2 linked regions of the Homo sapiens genome follow. The protein of the gene in region 1 interacts with the protein of each later gene in a biochemical or structural test. Each region holds a gene or a part of one and is shown on either strand. Other genes may lie near its edges.

Region 1 (4,499 bases):
TCTGGCATCCGTAGGCCTGTTTTTCTCGGCTTTCCTTCCACCACTTTTCCGTGTGCCCCTCGCGCTTGGCGAACCCGAGGAGGAGACCTGAGCTGGGCTCCGGGAGAGAAGGCCAAGGCCTGCCTGACGCCCCGGCCCGCAGTGTCTGGGAGAGCGGCAGAAGCTTTGGCCCAAGATCAGCACTCCAGACACCCGGTCCGGCAGGGGGCCGGGAACAACGTAGCCACGCGCCGCTTTCCTCTGGCTGGTCTCTCGCCGCCCCACAGCTGCCGGCCGGGCGCGGATCGATGCGCACTATCAGCTCCCGCCATCTCGAGCCCCGTTATTGACACGTCGGGCTCCCTGAACCTCCGAAAAGCTGCTTTGATTGACTCGCCTGATGGATAGAGTGATTGAGCTGTCAGGCTGCACGGCTCGGGCTGGCCGGGAGACTAGGAACGATTTTATTACAAGAGTCCGTGCCTCTGCACACACATACAACAACACTTCAACATGTCCCGGATGCAGAACGGGCAGTGGGGCCTTTTTGGGGCTGTGTGCATTTCTTGGGCTATTTCTCCCCGCTCAGCTAATTACGAATCAAAACCCCAGTTCTGCTCTGGAGAGGGCCTTGGCTTTGTTCTTGGCCACTTTCCTTCTTATGGGCCTGGGTAGGTAGGGGACCAGCTCCTTCTCCTGCTTGGGCAGTTGGGGGAGGAGGGGATGAGCCTCGACCCAGATCTGAGTCGCTGCAGTATGCTAGGCCTGGACTCTTTGTCATAGGACAGCTGGTTACCCCAGCCTCCTGCCTGCCCCAGGAGTAGGCTGCCCAGCCTTCCTCTCTGTAGCTAGGTTTGGAGATGCCGGCAAAGATCCTTCTTTCCAGACAGTTTTAGAGATGAACAGGCCTGACAGGGACTTAACTTGGTTCAGCAAGCTACCATATCCAAGGCAGGACCCAGCAAGTAAATGCCAGAAGACTTGGGTGTGGAAGCAGGTGGGCAGAGGTGCAGGCTTTTGAGGCACACACCAACAGTTCAATCCTCTCCTGGTTTTCCCGCTTTCCCTCCCTCCTTTCTCAGTGGGCCCTCCTCCCAGACTAGTATTTGAGGGGAACTTCACCTTCCTAAGGAGGTTTCCTGTGGCCCCTTCCCATTCCTATCTGGTGGTCAAAGCACATTTTTTTTTTTCTGGATTGTCCCTGCTTCCCTCCCTCTCCTTTTTGCTCATAGGTGGGGGAAGGGGCTGCAGTCTCCTTGCAAATGTCATCAGTAGGCAGAGAAAGCCAATCCGGCTTGTTTTTGTTATTCAGGAGTTTTTAATCCTGAAATTGCATCAGTTGAAAGGGGAGATAAGGAAGACCCAGATAAGAGAGACCCTGCCCCACGCAGCCGGTTAGAGGAATGTGGAAGGCCCTCCCTTTCTTATTGGCACCATCCAAGGGGCAAGGCTGAAAACCCAGAGCCAGGGTCATGAGGATGGATCAGGGCCTTTTCTCCTTCAGAGAAGGGGTGGTCCCTGCATCCCTGAGACCCTAGAAAAGGCTTCCTTTAGGCCAAAGAGAAAGAAGGCGAGGAGGTGTGTGTGGGAGGGAGGGGTGCGGGGAGGGGGGCAGACACCAAATACTTTGGAGCTAAGCAGCCCTCTCCCAGCCGGCTCACTATCCCGTTGTTTTCTGAGGTCAATAGCTACAAGCAGATGGGGTCTTATTGTAGTTTCTCCTGTAGGTATGATTCTTGAGGAGGAGAGGAAGATTTGTTTGCAGGCTGGCGACTCCCCCAGGGCCTGCCCTCACTGCCCCAGTCCTATCTATTCCGGGGCGGTGAGGACAGCAGGCCCCTGACCCCCAACTCTGGGCTGGGCCATATGAGCTCCAAATATCTCCTCATCTTGGATTCCTGCCTTCTTGGCTTGGAAATGTTGTGATTTCGGTCTGTCCCTGACTGTCCTGTGAGAATTGGGGTGTGGGGTGCACCTACAACCTCAACCAGCTTTCCTTCACTGCTCCTTTGCCCTCCCAAAGGGAACCCGGGGACCCCAGTGGTCTGGTGAGGGGCACTTCGATCCAGGGATTGGCTGGCGGGAGGGAGCCAGGGGTTCAGCAGGGCCTCCGAGATCGCCCCGGAAGCGCGGGGCTCGCGGCCCAGCTCGGCAATGCTATTCTCACGGCTTCCTTTGCCCTCTCCCCCCTCCCTTCTGCCCTCGGTCCCCACCCCCACCCCACCCCGGCCCTCTCCGCCGCTGCAGGTCCGCGCACCAGGAAGCTGAAGAAGAAGAAGAACGAGAAGGAGGACAAGCGGCCGCGGACCGCGTTCACGGCCGAGCAGCTGCAGAGACTCAAGGCGGAGTTCCAGGCAAACCGCTACATCACGGAGCAGCGGCGGCAGACCCTGGCCCAGGAACTCAGCCTCAACGAGTCCCAGATCAAGATCTGGTTCCAGAACAAGCGCGCCAAGATCAAGAAAGCCACAGGCATCAAGAACGGCCTGGCGCTGCACCTCATGGCCCAGGGACTGTACAACCACTCCACCACCACGGTCCAGGACAAAGACGAGAGCGAGTAGCCGCCACAGGCCGGGGCCGCGCCCGCGCCCCCTCCCGGCACCGCCGCCGTCGTCTCCCGGCCCCTCGCTGGGGGAGAAAGCATCTGCTCCAAGGAGGGAGGGAGCGCAGGGAAAAGAGCGAGAGAGACAGAAAGAGAGCCTCAGAATGGACAATGACGTTGAAACGCAGCATTTTTGAAAAGGGAGAAAGACTCGGACAGGTGCTATCGAAAAATAAGATCCATTCTCTATTCCCAGTATAAGGGACGAAACTGCGAACTCCTTAAAGCTCTATCTAGCCAAACCGCTTACGACCTTGTATATATTTAATTTCAGGTAAGGAAAACACATACGTGTAGCGATCTCTATTTGCTGGACATTTTTATTAATCTCCTTTATTATTATTGTTATAATTATTATAATTATTATAATTATTTTATCCCCTCCCCCACCGCCTCGCTGCCCCCGCCCAGTTTCGTTTTCGTTGCCTTTTTCATTTGAATGTCATTGCTTCTCCGGTGCCTCCCGACCCGCATCGCCGGCCCTGGTTTCTCTGGGACTTTTCTTTGTGTGCGAGAGTGTGTTTCCTTTCGTGTCTGCCCACCTCTTCTCCCCCACCTCCCGGGTCCCTTCTGTCGGTCTGTCTGTTCTGCCCCCCTTTCGTTTTCCGGAGACTTGTTGAGAAATACGACCCCACAGACTGCGAGACTGAACCGCCGCTACAAGCCAAAGATTTTATTATGTTCAGAAACCTGTAGTCTGAAATAAAGTGTACACTGTGCTCACGAGCGCTGGCGGCTCTCCTGTTTGCGGGCTCGGGAAGGACGTGGGTCCGGGCACACAGCGCCCCAGCGCCCCTGCGCACGCCGGGCGGGGAGCCGGCCGGGCCTTGCGATCACCGCACAACGAATGCAGGGCGAAGGGGAAGCGCGACCCAGATTTGGGTTTAGCCTGGGTCTGAAGGGTCTGGCGGGACACGCCTGGTCTCCGATTGCGTTCAAGGGAACTCAAAGGCCGACAACCACAGTCCTGGCTTCGGAAACGCTGCCTGGGCTGCGGGGCAGCTCCCCGCACCGGTCCAGGCCCAGCCCAGTGGCGGCCTCCTCCTGTACAAACTGCTTTTCACTCCAACCTGCACTTTTCTTTTTCTTTCTTTCTTTTATTTCCCCTGGTGCAGGTTTTGCTGCAGATTTTTTTTATCCAGAGATAGAAGGGGGCCTGCCTTCCTCCCTCCCCGACAGCCCGCTTGGGCGAGGGGCACTTTGGCCTGGCCTCTTGGCCGCCTGGACTCACTGCACTTCGTTTGCGGGAGGGCTTCTGTTGGCGAAGCAGCAGGTCCGGGGGCGGCCTGCGGAGCCTCGCGGGGCTCGGATCTCCTGGGCCCGCAATGCCGGAGGAGAGGAGGCCCAAATGCTGGGAAAGCTGTTCGGAGTGGCTGCTTGGGCCTTGAACCCGAGGTGGGCGCACGTCTGCCGTATCTGGGCCCTAAACCAAAGAGGGTTCCCTTAGGCATCCCAACAAAGCCTAACTTTCTTCCTCACCAAGGGGGGCGCACATAGAAGCCCCCAGGGCCCTCAGGACACCCTGGGTTCCCAGAAGGAAATGTCTGGCCTCTTGCTGCTAACACTGGGGCCCATCCTTCCAGAGCAGGAGCTGCTCTCAGATCTTAAGAGGTTAAGGGGAGGAAGGGAAGTTTCCTTCTCAGGAGGTATTATCTTTGTCCAGGATTTTTTTAAATTGTAAATTCCACTCCCACATTTTTTCTCTCTTCGGCAATATGTATGTATATACCCACACGTGTGCAGCTAGACGGGCAGGTGCCCACACATACTTGTGTGCATATACAATAATGTGCAGATATTGGTGCACCTAAGTTCCTACCAGTTTTTTGTGTATTCCTGTACCCGTGAGTATTGTGCAACTGATTTTCTTCTCTAATTAGATACACAATTGGACGTTTGTGAGTTCACTGTGTGT
Region 2 (5,021 bases), on another chromosome or scaffold:
AGATATTATGGAAGAGTAAGAGGAGACTGAGCTTTTTCTTAAACCCATAAACTCAAAGGATTTAATAACCTCATTGACTCTTTTACAAGGGAACACCACCTCAGTGTGATGCTATATGCTGGTGCTGGGTTTATTGGAGGAGCTAAAAGAGGTGTGTAATTCTTCTGGGTTCCTGTAGGTTATGTGGCGGGATGACCTCTTCTTTATCATGTAGGGAGAAGGGGTGAAGTGGGTCAGAAGCACCATGGTGTGAGAATAGTTTTCTAATGAGTTTCTATACAGAGTGAGGCATTTGTGGCTATATACTGTCTGTCCGTGAGCCTGTATGCATTAATAATATGCTGTGTATAATTGGCTTAGCAATTTGAAAAACGTGAAAAGCTGAGAGACACCATGTTCTTCATAGTAGGGTACTGAGCCTCCTGAAATTTAGTTGATATTGGAAATGCTGACAGACCCTTAACTAGAGTGCTGTGCAAAGTAGTGCTATAATTCAGTTTAAAGTGGACTTACATTTGAAAAACATCCTTCTGAATGTCACACATTAATAATAAGTTCTGAGGAGGCATTTGGTGCAGCTAGTAATCATAATTCTTATTAAAACTGGTGACGTCTGGCCCCCAGGGTGTAGCCAAGCTCAAATTGATGCTTTTTGCCGCCTGATCACCAGCATGGCCTAAGTGCTCATTATATTGTAGAGAGGGCCTTTGGAGCTCTCATTAGATTTGACAGGAATTCTCTCTAGGGGGAAACTGGGCATTAGCGAGACTCCTGACAGGCTGAAATTATTCCTGCTTTATGGCTTATAACCAAATGCTAGCAAGGCATCATCAGGGGACACAAAAAATTGTCATTTTTGACAACATCTTTGTTACTAAAAAAAAAAAAAAAATGCAGTGATGGGGAAACTTTCCGTACAGAGAGCTTTAATGCTGTTAAGATTTGTCTCCAGTGTGACGACCGCTCTCCCTTCCCACCTTTCAACGGGTTTGTCGGAGTGAGTTCTAGAGATTTCAGTGTCAAATCTCACTGCTGACTTTCCTGTCTGGAAGTTTTAAAGTGAAAGTGCATCCAAATCAAGAATGGTATAATTGTGGTTTCCTTTCCTGGTGTGGTGCCCACAGCCCGTGTTTAGGTTGTGTCAACACTTCCTGATAAGCCTTGCCTTTACTTTCTCTGCTCCCGTTTGTGGCGGGTTACCGAAAAGGCAATGAAACAGGAATGGTAATAGATACTTAAGTCTTTCATGGTAGCACTAAGAATATTTTTTTCTTGGAGCCCTTTATAGATCCCTGTCTGCCCATCTTTATCTGTGTGGATGGTAAACTCTAGATATCTCTATACAGTAGAGGTAGACAATGTCTCATGGAAAATTGAGGCAGTTCTGATACCATCAGAGTGTTAGGGTGCATTAAAAAACAGCAAGTTGATGTGAGCCTGGTGGTTTGCCTAGCTGTGCCTAGTGTGTGTGGTGGCGTGATCTTTAAATGTTTTTGTCTGTCATATGGTTTGATATTACCTCATTTGATATTTTTGGGAACAAGATGTACTGTAAATGCACACATAAACCTTATTTTAGCCCACTCATGTTATCTTTTCAGCATGCTGATGAAGCCATGCTATAAATTGTCATTGGTGGCTTTAATTTGCACAGTAATGAACAGTTTTCAATGTGATTTGTCTTCTGTGACCTCCATAGGCATCCTCCAGAGTAGATTGGGTAGGTGTTTTGCTCTGCCTACAGCTGTGTGCACGTGTTCAGAGTCTGGGACTTGCTCAAGGCCACGCATCTATTGAAGCTTGAGTTGGGTTGCCTCCTCCAGGGTTGTCTGTGCTGCTGCTGCTGCTTTTTTTTTTTTTTTGAGATGGAATCTCGCTTTGTTCCCCAGGCTGGAGTGCAGTGGTCGATCTCTGCTTACTGCAGCCTTTGCCTCCTGGGTTCAAGCAATTCTCCTGCCTCAGCCTCCGGAGTAGCTGGGATTACAGGTGTCCGCCACCATGCCCGGCTAACTTTTTTTTTCTTTTTTTTGTAGTAGAGAGAGGGTTTCACCCATGTTCGCAGGCTGGTTTCGAACTCCTGACCTCAAGTGATCCACCCACCTTGGCCTCCCAAAGTGCTAGGATTACAGGCATGAGCTACCACACCCGGCCTGTCTGTGCTTCTTCCTATCCCCTCATGCTGCCATCAGGAAGATGAGGTGGACCATGTCTCCCTAGTGCCTGCCTCTTCAGTTCTGACTCTTTGTGCTGATGAACTTCATGATTTGTAAGACATGTCAGGACTGAATGTATGTTCTAAAAGTTAGGAGAATCAGCAGTGCCGCTGACTGGTCTTTCTGGGGAGAGGAGGGTCACAGGCCATGGGTAGATAAAACTACTGAGCAGTACTGTCCTCAGGTTAAAGTATGTTTAAGAAGAAACAAGTCAGGAATCCTGGTGGAGACCCAGTGATGGGGAGGGAGTTTGATCAGTCACTTTGTGCCTGTGTTCTGCTGAAGAATGGGCAGAGTGAGAGCACTGGGCTCTCCAGGATGGTGAAGAATTTTTTTTCTTTTTTTTTTTTGCGCGACGGAATCTCGTTCCGTCACCCAGGCTGGAGTGTGGTGGCACAGTCTCGGCTCACTGCAACCTCCGCCTCCCAGGTTCAAGCGATTCTCCTGCCTCAGCCTCCTCAGTAGTTGGGATTACAGGAGTCCACCACCATGCCTGGCTAATTTTTTATTTTTAGTAGAGATGGGGTTTCACTATATTGGCTAGGCTGGTCTCGAACTCCTGACCTCAAGTGATTCCCCCCGCCTCGGCTTCGCAAAGTGCTGGGATTACAGGCATAAACCACTGTGCCCGGCCGATGGTGAAGCATTTAAAAATAAATGAAAAGACTAGCTCTGAAAATCTGAAAGGAAGGATGATATATTCTGCAATCCTGGTTGGGAAAGGGAAAGAGCTCCATGTGATATTTCAGCAAGCAACATCTCAGGCCATGTAAATTTTGGAGTGAAACTGCTTTTACAGTTTTGATGTGTGCTTTAAAATTTCTCTTAGAAAAATGCGTTGTTCTTTAGTGGGTTTTTAAAAAAGTATTTAGATGGGACTGTTAGGGACTCACCTGTGGGATATTTCCTTAGATGTGATTCTTTTACTCTTTTGCAAATTTTACCTTAGTGTTTTTTTTGTTTTTTTTTTTTAACCCTGTGTGTTTTTGTCTACAGTTTCTCACTTTGAGATTTTTTTTCCCCCTAAGTCAACATCTCACACAGGGAAATGACTAGCTAGAGTATAGGCACTTAGAGTTAAGCTCCAGCAGGTGTTAATAATCTTGTCATACAAAGAGGGTAGCTGTCATCAAGATTGGAGTGGTCCTCAACTTCATTAGCCAGGCCTGTTCTTTGCAAGCATAAGTTAAAAGAGAGAAAGCTCTCTGCATTTAGAGCCTAGATTCCGAGGTGCAAGATTAGCCTTTGTTTCTTATCAGCAAGCAGGACTGATCTCTCACCTCTCAGTCACCTTCCCCACCCTTCAGCAGTGGGCCAGTGGCTGGTTTTTGTCCTGGACTTGCACTGGAGTAAGGCAAGGGAGTCCCTGGGCATGGATTTTAAGAAAATCACAAAACATAGTTATCATGATCAATATTTTGAAAATTCAAACGGAATGCCCCCAAAATCTTCAAGGAACAACATGTCCAAATTTTGTATTAGGGCAGGATCCAACAGGGGGAGTTGGGAATAGGGTGAGGACAGGAGGTAGAGTCAGGCCATTGCAGGGCCACAGCACCTCCCTTGCCTCCCCCTCTTTCTGCCTTTGGTTACCTGTCCTGTGGGGAGTGGCCATGAACTATAGGCTCTGACTTGGTTCCGTTGTAGTTCATTGAAGTCATTTAATTGGGGATTTCCATTCGGGACTGGGCAAGTCATGAACACGTTCCCTGGCTTCAGTTCCCCTCTCTGTATAATGAGGGTTAGACTAGACAAAAGTCTGTTTGTTCCCTCGCATGGTGGGAGCCATCCCAGCATACACCCGCAGAACCCAGCACCTCGTGCGTGCAAATTGAGGAGCGTCCTTCGCCAGAGGACTTAAGATGTTCTCCCAAATAGTGTTTATTAAGAAACAGAAAGAAAATCTGTTTCTTTAGTAAATATTTAAATAAATCATCTTGAGTGGTAGTTAAACTAAAAATATATTCAGTTACTGGCTCATGGAACCATTTTAAGTTTCCATGGATCTGAGTCTTTGCTGTTTTATTATTAAACCTTTTGTGGTCTCCAGAAGTGGATTAAAGGGGAGGAAACTGAGAAACTTACTGGCTTTCCTCAAAGCTTTGATTGATTTCGTTTCCTACCCTCTCCCCTCCCCATTGCTTATTGTTGCCTCTGATTTTTAAAAATGGAAATTCTCACAACTAGTACCTTTACTACAGGGTATTTAGTATAGTGGTTTTTAAGTAAATTTTAGACAGCTGTTTCTGTCGGTGGGCTTATTTGACAAGAATAGGCATCTGTACCTTCAAAATACTCCTCACCAGAGGATTGTTCTGTGAATACGGTGTGATGTTTTAAGTGGAACTAGGATGCGCAGGTGTGGGCAGGAGGAGAGAGGTTTTCTGATTTTTTTTCCCCGTGAGGTGTGGTTTGATCTGAAAAGTGAAATAAATTTGCACTGAAATTTTAACATAAATTAAGATATTCATGTATTGCCATTCACCTGATTTAACAAAAGTATGGTTTCTAAAATTGTTTGCAAAGGAATGATTTCAGATTTGCTGCTTGTGTTTCTTCCTGAGCAGGGTCCACAGGGGAAAAAAAAAGAAAAAAAAGTGAAGAAAAATTTTTAAAATTATTGTTTGTAGACTACCCAGTCACCGTAATATTTTTTAATGAAAATCCAGGAAGTGTTGATATATGATTTTATCAAATAACCTGTGATTTAGCAAAATTACATGTTTCATTATTTAACATTTAATTTTTTTAATGGCGATAGAGTCTTAATCTGTTACCCAGACTGGAGTATAGTAGCGCAATCTTGGT

What was found. Proteins that work in one complex are often made in the same cells at the same time.
Region 2: the proteins of EN1 (region 1) and TLE1 form a complex in vitro, tested with the Homo sapiens proteins (one study listed by BioGRID).

The regions. Positions count from the first base shown.
Region 1 is NC_000002.12:118,840,982-118,845,480, reverse strand, and holds the end of EN1 (homeobox protein engrailed-1), read left to right. Parts: intron 1-2,226; coding exon 2,227-2,543; 3' UTR 2,544-3,310; downstream 3,311-4,499. UniProt on the Homo sapiens protein: Required for proper formation of the apical ectodermal ridge and correct dorsal-ventral patterning in the limb.
Region 2 is NC_000009.12:81,679,094-81,684,114, reverse strand, and holds part of TLE1 (transducin-like enhancer protein 1), read left to right. Parts: intron 1-5,021. UniProt on the Homo sapiens protein: Transcriptional corepressor that binds to a number of transcription factors. Inhibits NF-kappa-B-regulated gene expression. Inhibits the transcriptional activation mediated by FOXA2, and by CTNNB1 and TCF family members in Wnt signaling.